Regions from separate parts of the Homo sapiens genome. Here region 2 is linked to region 1. The links come from fine-mapping of genetic effects on gene expression. Tissue or cell type: whole blood. Region 1 holds a variant in brackets; the other region holds the start of a gene. All regions are shown on one strand. Distances are from middle to middle.

Evidence for each region. PIP is the estimated chance that this variant, and not a neighbour inherited with it, causes the effect.
Region 2: it holds the start of IKZF1, and the variant in region 1 is fine-mapped to the expression of IKZF1 in whole blood (TOPMed, PIP above 0.99).

What each region holds. Positions count from the first base shown.
Region 1 is chr7:50,339,219-50,347,218 of GRCh38, forward strand. All of the region lies in intron 3 of IKZF1 (IKAROS family zinc finger 1), which reads left to right. Among named protein-coding and RNA genes, the nearest start is that of IKZF1, 39 kb to the left of the region's middle. The variant A/G (reference allele first, on the strand shown) is at 3,397.
Region 2 is chr7:50,299,871-50,308,036 of GRCh38, forward strand. IKZF1 (IKAROS family zinc finger 1) reads left to right here and starts at 4,846. Exons shown (of 8, transcript NM_006060.6): 1 at 4,846-5,052. RefSeq lists an enhancer at 2,803-3,304 and a silencer at 4,159-4,958.

The sequences.
Region 1 (8,000 bases):
GTGTGTGTGTGTGTGTGTGTGTGTGTGTGTGTGTGTGTGTTGTGGAGGAGGAGCTGGGAAAGGGTGAATCTATTGGGGAGGACTGTGGGGTACATATAATTTGTCCAACAGAAGAGTTGGTTCCAAATGACTCTTTGCTGTTGAAGTCACAAACTGGAAATGTTGGAGCAACTAGACTCTCCATATTCTAAACAAAACACATCTTTAGCATTTAGTTTGGTTGCTGGGGGAGTATGATTAGAAAAGGATTTGGCCAGGCATGGTGGCTTACGCCGTAATCCCAGCACTTTGGGAGGCCGAGGCAGGCAGATCATGAGGTCAGGAGTTTGAGACCAGCCTGGCCAATATGGTGAAACCCCATCTCTACTAAAATATGAAAAAAAAAATTAGCTGGGTGTGGTGGCGTGTGCCTGTAGTCCCAGCTACTGGGAAGGCTGAGGCAGAAGAATCGCTTGAATTCGGGAGGCGGGGGTTGCAGTGAGCCAAGATTGTGGCACTGTACTCCAGCCTGGGTGATAACTCCTTCTCAAAAAAAAAAAAAGAAAGAAAGAAAGAAAAGGATTCTGTGTCTTATTTATGAGCTATTATGCTATTGCTGTTATTTGGGGCTGAATGATTTTTATTTGGGGCTGAATTATTTTTAAATGTAAAGCAAGATGTCTAAATTACATTAATATGTTACTAAATTACTATGATTTTTCCAGAAAAATATTAGCCCATGCAATATTCTTTAATTCCTGTGATTAAGTTGGTCTTCTGCAAAGAAATTTCTGTTGACTTCCTTAGATTAAATGCAGCCCTGAGATAGGTGTGCAGGTCCAGGAAGTGGCCTGTGCAGTTCTCCCTGTGCCTGCAGGGGTGGCTTCTTGAGGATACTTTCGCAGTAAGGGCTTAGCAATATGCGCATGTCTAAGGAGTCTATCAGAAAACTACCTCCACTGTGGAAGGGCTGGGGATTGTATTTTTGTGCTTTGAAGCACCTGACACTTGCTGTAACTCCATTAACTGAAGAGCCGTTTGGTGCCCTAATTTCAGGAGTGAGTTCAGCTGCAGGGATCTCAGAGAGACAGGTCTAGGGTGTGTCTCCGCAAGGCCTGCTGCCAGGAGAGTACTTCCCCCACAGGGGATGTGGCTGCAGGCTGTCGATTTCCACTGAAATCACCAGGAGATGATTCTGGTGAAGCCCTGAACATCCGGTGTCACTCCTCACCAGGCTGGGTGTGATCGATGGAAGGCCTTCAGCATGGCCCCCTGCTGCATGGCAGAGCCCAGTGGCAGATGTGGCTGTTCTCTTTTTCAGAGTGAAGGACTGTTACCCTAGAAGTGAAATCCTGCTGAAATGAGAAAAGTGCTGTTATTATATTTCTACAGGCAGCTATATGATCATTTTTATTATGATTCTTGGAACCTGGCAGAATTTTGACTGCTTTTGCAATATCTCTGTGCTCTCCAGTTGAACTTGGTGGCAATAAAATTAAGAATCTGCCAGTGCCCCCCAAGCATTTCTACTCTGTCCATAATGTTTAGTGACAATTAACTATTACCAGGTGTAGCCACCCTTACTTAATCTTAGTGTTATGGTGCAAGTAATCCTTAGTGAAATTATTGTTCTGTAGAGAATGCTGTGATCTAAGTGAAGTGACTTTCATCCTGAGATGACAATGGAGTTGTTTTTGTCACTGTAAAGGCTGCATTTACTCGCAGTTTTAAAGCATTATTGCTACTTATATATGGTCTCAACACTGATTTTTATATTTGACTTTGTAGCTTTAAGTGTAAAAATTTCTGTTAAGGTTTTATATGTGTTAGTTAATTTTTCCCATTTCAATAACCATGTTTTATTATTGATGGAGTCTCCTAAAAATATACCCTTAAAATCTGCTTGCCCTGTGCCTGCACACATATTTTAAATGTTGGGTATGGAGTCTTTTTTTTTTTTTTTTTAGACAGAGTTTCACTCTGCAGCCCAGGCTGGAGTGCAGTGGTGTGATCTTGGCTCACTGCAGCCTCCACCTCTTGGGTTCAAGTGATTCTCCTGTCCCAGCCTCCCAAGCAGCTGGGATTACACGCCCGCCACCATGCCCAGCTGATTTTTTGCATTTTTAATAGAGATGGGGTTTCACCACGTTGACCAGGCTGGTCTCGAACTCCTGACTTCAGGTAATCCACCTGCCTCAGCCTCCCAAAGTGCTGGGATTACAGATGTGAGGCACCGTATCCAGGCTGTATGGAGTCTTTCTAATCAGGACATAGGCAGACAGTCCTAGCCCAGCTTTATGCCTTATGAGACGCAACAACGTTGAACAGTCATTGTTTGAGGGACAGAGGTTTTACAGATGGATGATAACTAGCATCTGTGGAACATTATTTGTGAAATATAGAAATCAGAAATTCCAGCGTAGCACTGTCCAAGGGGAACATAATTTGACCTGCATATTTGCTGGTCCATTTTTAGTAGTCACATTAAAAAAGAAAAATGACACAGGTGAAATTAATTTGAATATATTTTCTTAATTCAGTATGCTTAAATATTATTTAAGTATGTACTCAATATAAGCAATTGTTAATGAAATATTTTACTCTTTTTGAACTATGTGTTTGAAACCCCGGATGTATTTTTTTTTTATCTTCACCACACATTTCAATTTGGGTTGGTCACATTTCAAGTGCTCAGGAGTCACATGCAGCTAGGGGTTACCTATTGGACAGGCAGGCAGATCTTGAGAGCTCCAAAGAACTGTGTGTCATTATATTGTGGAAAAAAAAAAAACTTTTTAGATTAACCCTTGTTGAATGTTAGCCAAAGACTAGTCATTTATCAACTCTCTAAAAGTAGTTTTTAAATCAATTTGCTTTTCAAAACATTTTCTCAGTGTTGTCACAAATGTATGTGAACATCTGCTTTTTAAGTCTTTCATTTTTTGCCCACATTTGATGTAAAGAAAATCTAGGTCCAGTCCAATTTTAACATCAATTGGGTTTATTTTATGTAGCTGTGTTTTAAGTACAGGTCTTGTACTTGTAGGCATTTTGGTTAAGTACAAAGTAACGAGAATACAACAACATGTGAACATGTCAAACAAATCAGTTTTTCAAAGCTAAGTAGCTGAATTAAATGTAGAAAAACATGACATTTAATTTTTGTCTTCATCCCTTCATTGTATTCCCATGTACTCTATGGTAACTTTTTTAAGTTGGGAAGTCCTCTTTAAATTTTTGAAATGAGGTAGCTGCTTTATAGACATGAGGCAGGTTCCCAGAGAGCGCCCTTGAGGACAGGCTGTAAGTAAACTAAGCTGCAAAGACAGACACCATCACAACTATGGAATTGTTTTGCAAAAATTGTGGAGAGTGATGCCCCTTGATACTTCCTAAAAGATGCTTTTGCAACCTGAT[A/G]AAGCAACCGAGGAGAGGTGGTGAAGGAAAGGCTTTTTTTTTTTTTTTTCAAAGAGAGAAAGAGAAGCAGCAAGCTGCCTGCCTGCAGCCTGAGAAAGCAGTTCCACCTTGGCACCCATGTCCTCATAGCCCAAGCGGGGCCACCCTGGCATGTGAATCTGCTCCGCAGTGTGCAGCCCAGACCCCAGCCTTCCTGTGAAAGGGACACCTCCTGCTGCTAACCGCTGCTCTTCCTGCAGTTCAGGAGACAGCGTGTGCTCCTGTGGCGGCTGCATTTCCTGAGTACACCATGATCCAAAAAGGCACAGATTCGTCATGGAAGCTTTGATTGGGCCGTTACTGTCTTTTGACCTTTCTTGTTTGCTTGCCCTTTTGTTTCTTTCCTCCTTTTTCCTTCCTTCCTGTCTTTCTTCTTCCTTCCTTCCTTTCTTCCTTTTTCTTTTTAATTTTCCTCCTTTCTCTTTCTCCTTTCTTTCCTTCCTTCTTTCCTCTTTTTTTCTTTCCTCCCTCCCTCCCTTTCTTTCTTCCTTCCTTTCTTTCTTCCCTCCTTCCCTCCCCACCCTCCCTCCCTTCCCCTCGTCTCCCTTCCCCTCGTCTCCCTTCCCCTCCCCTCCCTCCCTCCCTTCCTCCTTTTTCTTTCCCTTTCCTCCTTCCTTCCTTCCTCTCTTCTTTTCTCCATCCCTTTCTTCCTTTTAACATTTGATCATGGGTACCATTTCATCAAGATTCTGTTACTTAGGTCCAAGGACTAGTGACCAAATTGTTTTTCCCAGGAGTAAACTTTTCTACAAGACATAGAGAAATGACTGCCAGTGCCATCAGGCACACCATCCTGTGTGATAGGTAACCTAAAATAATGGTACAGCGGGGAGTAACTGGAAGAGTCACAACTACACAAATCTCTTGCATTTTCCTGATCATTAAATGAATTAGGGATTTCCTGGTTTGAGATTTGTGGACAAGGAGAACTACTTCTTTGTACAAGAGGCTTGTGCCAGGAGAAGACACGCTGTGGTTACAATGTTACTGTCTCTAGCTATGGTCATTTCATGTCTTTAACTGAGTGTACCTAGAGTGTAATACAGTGCAGCAGTGATGGGCTGAAGGCCTAATGCACCAGCACACATGCCTGGAAGACCTAACGTTGAGAATCCGCATTTTTTTCATCACTCACATTTATTTTGCATCTCCCTGTTTTGATTACCTTCAGAGACCCAAGCACTTGCTTTTGTATATTTGAGTCTGGGTTTTATTTTCCTTTTAGAAATAGTCCAAAATCCTTTTAGAGCCTAGACCTTTGAATAAAGTGCTAACTTAACCTGAGGAATGCTGTTTTTTTGTTCACAAATAAGGCTTAATTGTGAAGTCGTGAGAATTGCTTTCTGAGCTGACTTATAAATTTACCCACCTCTTTTTCCCCAAACCCCCAAAAAATCCTCCAGAAGGTGAGCCCAGCTTGTTGTAAAAGATTTTGAAGCAGAAGTCCTGGGTTTAAGCTTCAGTTCTCTGCCTTACCAGAATCGGGATGTGTGGGGCAGGCCTACCTCCTCTTTCTTCATCTGCAAAATACATTGAATGAAATCATATTTTTTCCTAAGTATATGACATGTAAAGTGGTATTTCAAAAACTCATTAATCTGCATGACCAGGTCAGAAAAGACACACCTTTTGCCTTGTGTCTAGTGTGTGACTGTCCTCACATGTAGATGACCCAGGCCACATCCGCTGATGTTGTCTTCCTTTACTTCTTTGTCCCTTCCAATGACTCCTTTATGAAGTCAATCAGCAGTGTTTCTAAGCCAGGTTCCTTCTCTTCACACATCCCCAACCCACAGGGCAAGTCATCCACATTTTGCCTCTCTATTTTTTGTGCTTTGGGAAACACATTTTACAACTTCCAAACTATTTGCCTAAGTTCATCTGAGCACATCTAGAATTATTCCACTCCTCTGCATCAGTGCTAAAAGTACAATCATGTATAAGCTGTTATACTCCCGTTATTTTGTACCTCATGTGCAGGTAGATTGCAAGTTCCTTGCAGGCAGGTACTACATCTACTTGAATTGCTTCACGATCACATAACACAATGCAGTGTTAAAAGTAGAAAAGTAATTGACATCTTGACTAACAGAAACACTAAATTCAGTGTATTGTGATGATACCTTTTTAAGAGATAGGCTATAGAAATAGAAAATCATCTTAGTTGGAATTGAAAGTCAAGAAGCAACATTTTAAGTAAGAGATGAAAATACTTAAAAGGGAAAGGAGCAGTGCTTACACAGATGAGGGGAAAAAATAAAATGTATCATCTAAAAATTTAAATCAAATATATTAGGTTGGTGCAAAAGTAACTGCGATTTTTGCCATTAAAAGTAATAGCAAAAACCACGGTTACTTTTGCACCAACCTAATAGATGGGAAAAATAAGAGGAATGAATATTTTAAGCTTTGCTATATAATTAAAATATTCTTAGAAGTCTGGAGTCTGTGAAGGTCACACCCTCTGGTCTTCTCCCAGCCCATAGGGTATAAATAATCTGAATTGACGGCATCCAGGGATCTCAGAAATTATTAGTACATCCCACAGTGAATTACCACCTTACTAAAATATTCATGGGTATATACTATGGATTTGTTTTATCCTATTTAGTCTTAAAAACTATAAAGAAATCTGCAGGCTTATTAACATATTACTCAGAATCATATTGTCTCCAAAGCACAAACTGAATCAGTTACAAGATATTGGACTAGAGATCATGGCAAATCAGAGGTACATAAGACCTAGTTCCGTTGTGGAGCTAAACAAACTGCAGAGACCTAAAGGGAAGCCTTGCACCACACTCTAGGTTTGGAGCTCAGGTTTTGAGTGGTGTCAGCACTCCAGAACACATGGGATCCCCGGGAGGTGGAAATTGAGCCGTCTTTGGAGAATCAGCTAATGAGACAGATGCATGTTAAATGTCTGTTGTGGCCCAGGCACTCTGCTAGGCAGAGGGGTGAACCAGAAGAATGAGATTCATGGGGCCAAAGAATTTGCCTTCTGGTGTAAGAAAAGATGGAGGCAGCTTGGCAGAAAGAAAAAAAAGGTAAAAGATAGAAATGAAATACAGAATAATCTATCTCCTCATCCCACAAGCAATTCTGCCTGGTTTGTGGCTCACGCCTGTAATCCCAGCACTTTGGGAGGCCGAGGCAGGAGGATCACTTGAGGTCAGGAGTTCGAGACTAGCCTGGACCACAAGGTGAAACCTCATCTCTACTAAAAATGCAAAAAAATTTAGGGCCGGGTGCAGTGGCAGTTCTGCCTGGTTTGAACATCTGGTTCAGTTAAAATACTTCATGAAAATATTTAGCTTGATGCACTGAAATCCATCACTGCTTTTGTGGGATGCACTGACTGCAGTCTGACTGTTCTCCTAGTGGAAAGGGGAGCAATAGCTTCTGTCTGCATGTGCATGAAACAGATGGAAATTTAGAAGAGATTCTAGTGCAGACAACTTCATCCCACCCCCGCTGCCCACAGAGCTAGCCATGTGCACGGTGTGTTTGAACAATGTTATGTTGCTGCTGTGCACAGAGATCCCCAGTCTCATAAAACATACTGGATGGAAGGCTGTCGAGAGATCATCAGGCCCCAGTGCATAAGTTCTTCCTAAGCATCCTTAACAGGTGATCACCTCGCCTATTGAGAACCCTCAGGAGGCAGCCCACTTACGGAAGCACTGATTGTTACAAAAGCCCTGAACTAAATCTGCTTGTCTCTAAAGCCAGCCCTGCAGATGTCTGCAGTGTAACTACTTTCTCTTCTCTCAAGCAGTTCAGCCCTTCAAATCATTGACAACAGCTCTACAAAGCCCTCTAAATAGCCCGTTCTCCTGGCTAAAGTGTGTTGGTTTCCTCAGCATATGATGAAATAAACACCATGATGCCTTTGCCTTGCTTTTTCTTGCTGGTCTCACTCTTCCCTGGCATTCTTCAATGTGCCCAAGTCCTTCCTAGAACATTGCACCCAAAGGGCCTTCCTGGTCTTTCCAGGGAATGCAGAATGAAAAAGAAATCCCATCCCCTGCCTCGAAAGGAGCTCTTCTGTGTGTAAGTGTACCTTCCCCCTCAGGGCATAATGGGAAACAGTTTGCCAAAGCTAACTGTGTAATTTCACATGACTCACTGCCGTTAGTCTGAGAAAGCATGGCATATTAAACTCATTTTCCATGCTTCCCAACTTTATTTACTATTCCATTTCTGAGGGGCAGAGAGCTGAGCAGGAATAACACCTTCCTTGCTCCTCCTAATGGGGCACATGTGCACATATAAAATTGTGTTCGATCTTTGCAGCCACGACCCATGTTAACTGTCAACTGAGAACTCATGAGTCAGTTTCTCAGGAACAGCCCTGAAGACATTATCTCCTGCATCTTGTATTTGTGCCTTTGATATTTGGAGGGAAGGGTAGGATCTGGCAATTATCGTTATCTCATTTGGTTCAGTGTATTTCATTTCAGCCTGTTAAGATCTTTTGGAAATACTGTATGTGCTAGTTACAGGGACAGTGATAAATAAGACAGCATTCCTGTCCTTGAGATGCTATTTCCACAGCTCCATGA
Region 2 (8,166 bases), 39 kb before region 1:
AGCTCCTTAAGGGACAGATCTTCCTTTCTGCTTTCTTGTGACTACCTGCATCTCAAGAGCCACCTGCAATGGTACACTCTCAATAAATACAGGCTTTCTGAATAAATAAATGAATACATGCCACCAGAGTGTTTATGCTTCCGGAAATCCTGCTCCAATCCTGTTCCTATTCAAAGAATCAACTGGAGTGACACACAGCTCTGTTCTTCTTTGTTCTGATCTGTTCAGGTCAGATTAATATATTATTTTTTATTACTCATCAAAAACATCTTCAGAAACTTTTCATCAGAAAGATTTTTTGTGTAAACCTATCTATCTCCTCCAAATCACTATATCTGACTCAGTGTGATTTTTAGTCTCTTATAACCAAATGATATTGATAGAAATTTGTTGCTTTTGAGAACCTAAGTGTATTTCTCTTACAAATTTCAAAGGGAATAAAGTGAAAGTATTATCAGGAAGTGGGAAGAATTCATATGTCAGCTGCAGCCCATCCCTGATTCGAAACCTACAGGCAGAGATGTGAATGGTCAGTAGTGCTAAAGGATTTCTGTGGTTCCTGCAGAACCAGGAGACACTGAGGTGCCAAGACAGGGCCTTACAGATGTTTCAGGAAACCAAGCACCCAGAGGAGTATCTTGCCAGGTTCACCAGGTGCTTCCTACCCAGGCACTGCCAGCAGGACAGTCCTAGCTCTGCACCAGCCCCCTGCCTCTCCTCTGCATCCTGCTCCTTCACCCCCAGCAGCAGGCGGGAGCTAGTGGACTATGCTTAGAAATAGCCAAACCAACGAGGGAGCCCAAGAAAAAGGATCGAGGACCTCTCACCAGGCCAGTGATCATTACTTTTCAAAAACAGCAGAGGCAGAAGCTGGAAGTCATGAAAACTGGGAAAAAGAAACCAAAGAAACAGTGTCTTTGTTGCAACAGTTTCATCCAAGTCCTGGGTATATAAATAAAATAAAATTTTATTTTTTAGCAAAAAAAACCTTTTGCTGTTATTTAAAAATATTCTTGCTGTTTTCCAACCATCAGAGGAGACATGCACTTTTCATTGCTGTTAACAGATCTTTTTTTATTGAAGAAAAATACAATTATGATAACTTCCATAGATTATTTCATTGAATTTCACGTAATTCTATCAAGACCATTGTGAAGTAGATGTGCTCTGCGGATGAGAAACTGAAGCTCAGGCTTTAAACAACTTGCCAAACACAGTTACTAAGAAACAAAACTATTAACCATATCGTATCACCTCAATCATCCTTTTACTTTCCTTTGAAAGTAAAAAACTCACTCTCTTTTGAAAATCCCATCCAGGCTCTACCTGGACAAAAGTGCCTAGCTGCCTCTCTTTCCATAGTGAGCTCTGAATAAGTAGCCTTTGATTAATCCTATAGGTGGTCTCTATTCTTTCGATAATACAGCCTCATAAGAAGAAAAATTGGTGATTTAGCAATTATTGCCTGAATAAATTAAAGTGTTTTATTTAATACTTTAACATTATGAAGAGGGCAATATATGAATTAATATGTAAATAAAATAAAATGACTTTAGACATAATATGAAAAAAAACAGTTTTACATGTTCCAATTTCTCCCTATATGTTTTCCCATCCATTGTGCATTTTACTGTTGTCCCTAAGGGTTTGAACATTTGATTTATATCACCTCTCTGGTCCCTCTGAGTCTATCCACAGACCCCAGGTTATAATAATATAAGCTTGACTTCCTTCAACTCCACCCGGTTGGGGGCAAGGGTAAGGCATGGTACCTGCAGCCTGACTGCTGTTTTGTTTTGTTTTGTGACAGGGTCTTGCTGTGTCGCCCAAGCTGGAGTGCAGTGGTGTCAATCATGGCTCACTGCAGCCTCAAACTTCTGGGCTCAAGGGATCCTCCTGCCTCAGCCTCCTAAGTAGGTTGTTGGGACTGCAGGTGCATACCATAACACCTAATTTTTAAATTTTTAATACAAATGGGGTTTGATTTTTAAAGTTTAAAATTTTTTTGTACAAACAGGGTCTTGCTTTGTTGCCCAGGCTGGTCTGGAACTCTTGGCTTGAAGTGATCTTCCCACCTTGGGCTCCAAACTCAGGTGTGAGTCACTGCACCCAGCCAAGGAGCCTGACTCTTCACAGTGCACTCCTCATCTCATTGGGACATTGGTTGGGCTAGCAGGGAATAACTGTTCTTACTTGGAAAGTACTCCTCTCTGTCAGGCATGTGGCAAGGTCTTCCATATGTGATCTCCTTAACCCACAAACAACCCCACCAGGAGGGTTATATTATCACCACCAATTTACAGATGGGGAAATTCAGGCTTTGAGAGATTAAGGACCTCAGTCAGATTCATAAGCCCAAACTATCTGGGCTCTTAGCCCCACATGCTCCTGCCTCAGTGGGCTACACCTTGGTGAGATGCCTATGTTTCGGTCCACTGGTCCACTCCTGAAGACCAAGGCACAGGTTTAGAGAGACGTACCAGCGGCTAAAGGTACTTCTGCATCCAAGAACTAGAGGTGTCCCGTGTCCCCTTTACAACATTGTTGGCCTCCCTCTGGGCCTTGTACCTTATGTTTATTGCCTCATTTAATCCAGGTAAGGAGTCTTTAGGATTGGTGGCATGTATTCTTTTTATAGACAAGGAAGATGATGCTCAGGAGTTTGGATAACCTGCCCAAGGTCACGCAGTGGAGGAGAGGACTAGAAGGTAAATCAATGGACCTTTCACTACCTTCCCCTTCTCTGGGCTGTAGCAGTGAGTTAACTGGCTCAGACTTGCCCAGCGGAATGCCCTTCAGGACACACTGAGTACTGTAGTAAGAGCTGCATATGCGCTCAGGGAGAATGTGGATAGACGCTGTTTGTGATTCACGGGTAAAGGGCCTTCTCCCAGAGGCAGCAGAGGCAGATCCTGTCTCTGGTGTGCCCTGGCCCCCGACTTGGAGGCCTCCTGGGCCAGGCCAAGACCTTCCCCGGCAGCGATGGTCTCCAGCCACACTCAACTGCCCTGAAGGGACATTTCCTGCTTATTCCCTTGCCCGGCTGTGTCCTCCACCCGGAAGGCCTGTGCCTTCTTCGCCTGCATGTCCTACCCTGAGGAGGCTCCCTTGGTCTTTCATCGCTCTCCCTATGGGTCTTCACGCCTTCCCGAACCACCGCGCCCAAGCAGGAGCACGTTCTCGGCCCTCTTCACAGGGCGCTCCTCCTCACAGGGGTGCCCGGGATTTTTATTCTGTGCCTTCCTGGTGGCTCCTACAAGTCTGGAAGGGCAGGAGGCGCATCTCACTCCTCTGGGTCCCCTCCCCTAGCGCCTGGCGGGAGCCCAGGCTGCATTTGTGGAATTCATGACTTTTTCTCTCCTGCTCAAGCTGAACACATTGCTGGCTCCTGCTCGGGTGGAGCCCGGCTAATTAGAGTGAGGGGCTCCCCGTAGGGCGAAGGGGTGCGCTGTCAGATGTGGCATTCCCGTTTTACGGAGACACACGGTGTCTTACACGCCAGGGAGAGGTCTGAGACGCAAAGAGCCGTCGAGCGGGCTGCGGGATTGCTTCGCTGTCACCTCCGCCTGCAGCCACCCTTCCGCACGCACTTGTGTGTGCACCCAGGCCAACATGGAAGGCGCCATCCTAACTTCTGCCGTGAGCAGGTGGGAGGGAAGAGAGACGAGAGGTATTCCATTGGTTGTCTGGGAAAATGAATTGCACCTTCCCCTCCCTTGCGGAGGATCAACTTTTCCCACCCCCTCGGGTGGGCACTCGCATCCTGGGGCCGGAGCCTGAACCCGGGAGCCAAGGGGCCCCAGTTCCAGGGACGTGAAGCTGAGCGTACAGCGGGCGCTCCCAGACACTGGGGAAAGTGCTTTACGATGTCCCGAGTCCCTCCAGTCTCGCCAGCGGGGCGAGCGTGAGGGTGCCCCGACCGACCAGCGGCCCCGGGTGCAGGGTGGCGGGCCCGGCGGCGCGCGTCCCCCTCCCCCTCCTGGCGGCCCGCACGTGTCGCCCGCGCCGCGCCCCCACGGGTTACGCGCGGGTCCCGCAGCGCCGCGGCCGAGCCGGGCTGCCCGGCCCGCGGACACAGCGCCGGCCGCCGCATCCCGTGCGGGGCCGCGGCGCGATGCTGCGCTGGAATGAGGAAGCGCGGCGGCGAGGGGAGGGCCCGGGCGCGGTGCGCGCGGGGGTGGCGGCGGCGCGCCGAGCGGGCCCGGCGCGGGCGAGCGGGCTGCAGCCGGCGGCGGCGCCAGCAGGTACGGCCCGCACCCGCCGCCGCCCCGGCGGCCTTTGGGGGCTGAGCCGGAGCCCGGCGCGATTGCAAAGTTTTCGTGCGCGGCCCCTCTGGCCCGGAGTTGCGGCTGAGACGCGCGCCGCGCGAGCCGGGGGACTCGGCGACGGGGCGGGGACGGGACGACGCACCCTCTCCGTGTCCCGCTCTGCGCCCTTCTGCGCGCCCCGCTCCCTGTACCGGAGCAGCGATCCGGGAGGCGGCCGAGAGGTGCGCGCGGGGCCGAGCCGGCTGCGGGGCAGGTCGAGCAGGGACCGCCAGCGTGCGTCACCCCAAAGTTTGCGGGGTGGCAGGGCGCGCGCTCTGGCCACCCGCCGCTCTGGGCGGCAGCTGGTGGCAACGCAAGGGCGCGGCGGGGGCGGCCGGCGCGGAGGGGGCCAGGTACGGGGCCCGCGGGCGGCGCTGTGCGCGCGGGGCAGCCGGTCGGCCGGGAGCGCGAAAGCCTGGTCTGAGCCGGCTGGGGGCGGGGAGTGTGGCGGAGAAATGGGGAACAATGCGAGTGAGCAACTTCAGGAAGTCATTGTGAAAGAAAGCTGGGAAGAGCTCCGCGGCCAAGTTAGCAGGACACTCTAACAAGTGACTGCGCGGCCCGCGCCCGGGGCGGTGACTGCGGCAAGCCCCCTGGGTCCCCGCGCGGCGCATCCCAGCCTGGGCGGGACGCTCGGCCGCGGCGAGGCGGGCAAGCCTGGCAGGGCAGAGGGAGCCCCGGCTCCGAGGTTGCTCTTCGCACCCGAGGATCAGTCTTGGCCCCAAAGCGCGACGCACAAATCCACGTGAGTGTTTTCAAATTGAATTTCAATAGGAAAACTTGGGGTAACTGGTGAATTTAAAAAAAAAAAAACACAGTAAAGAAAAGCGGTAAGGTTGGTAGACCCTGGTGTCGCTCAGGTCCGCCTCTCTTTTCTGAGGACAGTGAGAGAGTTCACTTCTGTCAAGCGTCTGTTGCTCTGCACTGTGCCAGCAGGTGCAGGACCAGGCCGACATGGGACACTTCTGAGCAGCCCCGCTGTCACCAGGAGAGGAGTTCTAGCTCCCAACCATATTTAAATTTATGTAGACCTACATATACCCACGGAAGTCAGCCTTTATAAAGTCGTGTGTAAAGAGTTTTCCTTATATTTGAGCCGGGAGCTTTCTTTTTATACTATAAATATGATGAGATCGAGTCTGAACTTAATTTCTGCAAGAGAGGAATTATCCCGGCTTTGAAAAGTTAGTCCTTTTGCTGACCGCAGGTTTGACGCTCAAGTCACCAAACCTTCTCAGGAAAACCCTTAGTAATATTAAGGCATCAGGTTACTTGCGGTTATATTTGAAATGTATTTTAAATATTTGTCAAGCATCGCTGCTGATGCCTAAGGAACCTCGTGAGGGCTTGTTTTTCCTTCTAATTTGGAGGCATCTAATGACCGAAAACCGTAGCGATTCCATAGGGTCTGACCAGGCACAGCTTTCAAATGCAGCTTCCCTCTCTCTAGGGACTGCAGCCCACCCAGACTGAATTTCAATGCGGTGCGCTTTGCTTAGGTTACCCACTCACAATTTCCCACTGCGCCGCAGGCAGTATATTTCAGCTTTGAGATACCTTGTTTTAAAATTCCAGACAAAATGGTGTTGAGGAAATGTCTCCTTACTAGTCCCATCAACTTCTGTTAAAAGAGGAAAATTTATGGAATTTGAAAATACTGCGTATGATATTTAAACTTTCATAGACATTCAAATGCTTTTAAGGCCAGGTTCAATTTGGTTATGAGTCGAGGGGTGGGGGGGACCCACATAGAAATGTCCTGGGTCCTCTTGAGTTTATTTCTTTGTTTGAAGATGTTTGTTCAATGAGTTTTATTGTACTCATCTTTTATATGGAATTTTAAAAAGTAACAATTTCAGTATTATTTATATTAGAATGTGTCAGAATTATTTCCGTGACAAATCAGATCATTTGGGCTATGGCTTAAAATGTACACGAGGCAAATATTCATGACAAGAAGATTCACCTTCTTACGCTGGCATCTTGTAAAATGCAGAACAAGTTAAAGAAATAATGTGTACACATACAAATAATGATGTCACATTAAAAATACTACACTATTCTTGCTTGATGGAATGTATCTGATTTCCAATTTCACCATGAACATATTTCATACATTTTTTACATGAAAAAAAACGTGACTCTTAAGTCTCACAGTCAATCAGAGCTGGTGACCAGAACATTTTATTGAACTAAATGGTCATGTTTTCTTCCCCTTTTGTTTCACGGTGAGAGTTGAAGGAAGGAGTTTAGAAACTCTCCAGTACTTGTTTAATTCATCAGTGTTCTAATTAGAGTGGTACCTCTTGGAAAACTACACACCCCCCTAATGCAGAAACATCATAGCAATAATCACCCACCCTCAGGGTCTCCAGGAGACCACAAGGGCTGCAGATAAAAGTCTGGATGTGTTAGGTTTGACCCTTTCGAAGAGTTTTACACAGGCTCCTAAAGAGAAGATCAGCTGTGGCCGTTTGTAGCCATTTCCTTTGTCGAAAAACTAAGATCGCAGTGAATGTATTAGCCAAGAGGTCTAAAGCCCTGTTGTACTGCAGGCCACTGTCTTCCTTGTTTGACTAGAGACTTGGAGTTTGAGAACAGTGGTTCTTTGGTTTGGATACATTTTTTGTTCTTGATTTGGATGTGTGTGTTTCATGCGTGGTTAATATAGCATATTTTCAATATAAATGTCAAAAATTTTGAAATAGGAAAGAACTCTCTATATATTAATGTACTTATACACACACTTCAAGATTATGCATTTATTAACAGATACATGAAATAAATTCCATGTGCATATGCACATATGCACACAGAGCGTGCACACACACAGCATGCACACAGCGTGGAGTGAGAGGCATGGGGCAGTGTGGAAGAGTTTTAACATCAAACAGACCTGAAATGAGTATTAAAGGCCCCCTTTATTTTTAAACTTTTACTAAAACAAGATGGATTTCCCTATGTTATATAATGGTGAATTTTAGGCATAAATAACGTTTTTTGAGTGTTGCATAATTGTACGTATTAATGTAATGTAACTGTGGTTAACGAAGAATTCATCAAGGATATCACTGTTTTGTGGCATTTTTTTTTTCCTCCTCTAATCTTTGGACTTGTGAAATAATTTCACTATGAAATAAATGTTGGTTCTTGTCATATTCTAAGGGAGATTGATGTAAGTGGCTCCACTCCAGCTTACAGAAGGTAAACCACGACCTTTTTGCGTTCTCTGAAAACGCTTGTCTTCCGATGCCTCTGTTTCTAAGACTGACAAGCACTCTGGGGGCACTGTGACGCCTGCTTCTAGCGGCAGAGTTGCTGCAGCTCCTGTCCTGGCTGTGAACATTGTTCTCTCTCTGGTGTCTCTATGTTCATAACTACAGAGACTTCAGCTCTATTCCATTTCATATTTGTGCTGAATAATCATTCCATTTTATGGGAGAAAACACAAGATGTAAAAGCAACAAGTGACCCATCCTTTGAAGCTTACAAGAAGAGAAACATTAATCTATTTCACGTCTTGAAAACAGATCAGTTTTATTTTGCTCAAAAAGGGCACATGTACATTTTTGATCTAGGTCTTAGAAACGTAGAGTTTCAGAGGATCAGCATTATACACACTGTCACACACACACACACTTAAAATTCAGATGAGGAACAAGATAGGAATGAGGTTTTGTTAGGGACGCAGAGCACCTAAAACCAAAGGATATCGACAGTAACAAAGCTGTTTTTACTGTAGTGCTGACTGAACACTCATGCTGGTGTCTTCATGTGGACCATGGCTTTCTTGTATTTCTTTGCAGTTTAATAAATGACTTCATATCTCAGGTTACCTTTCCACATCTCCTGGAATATA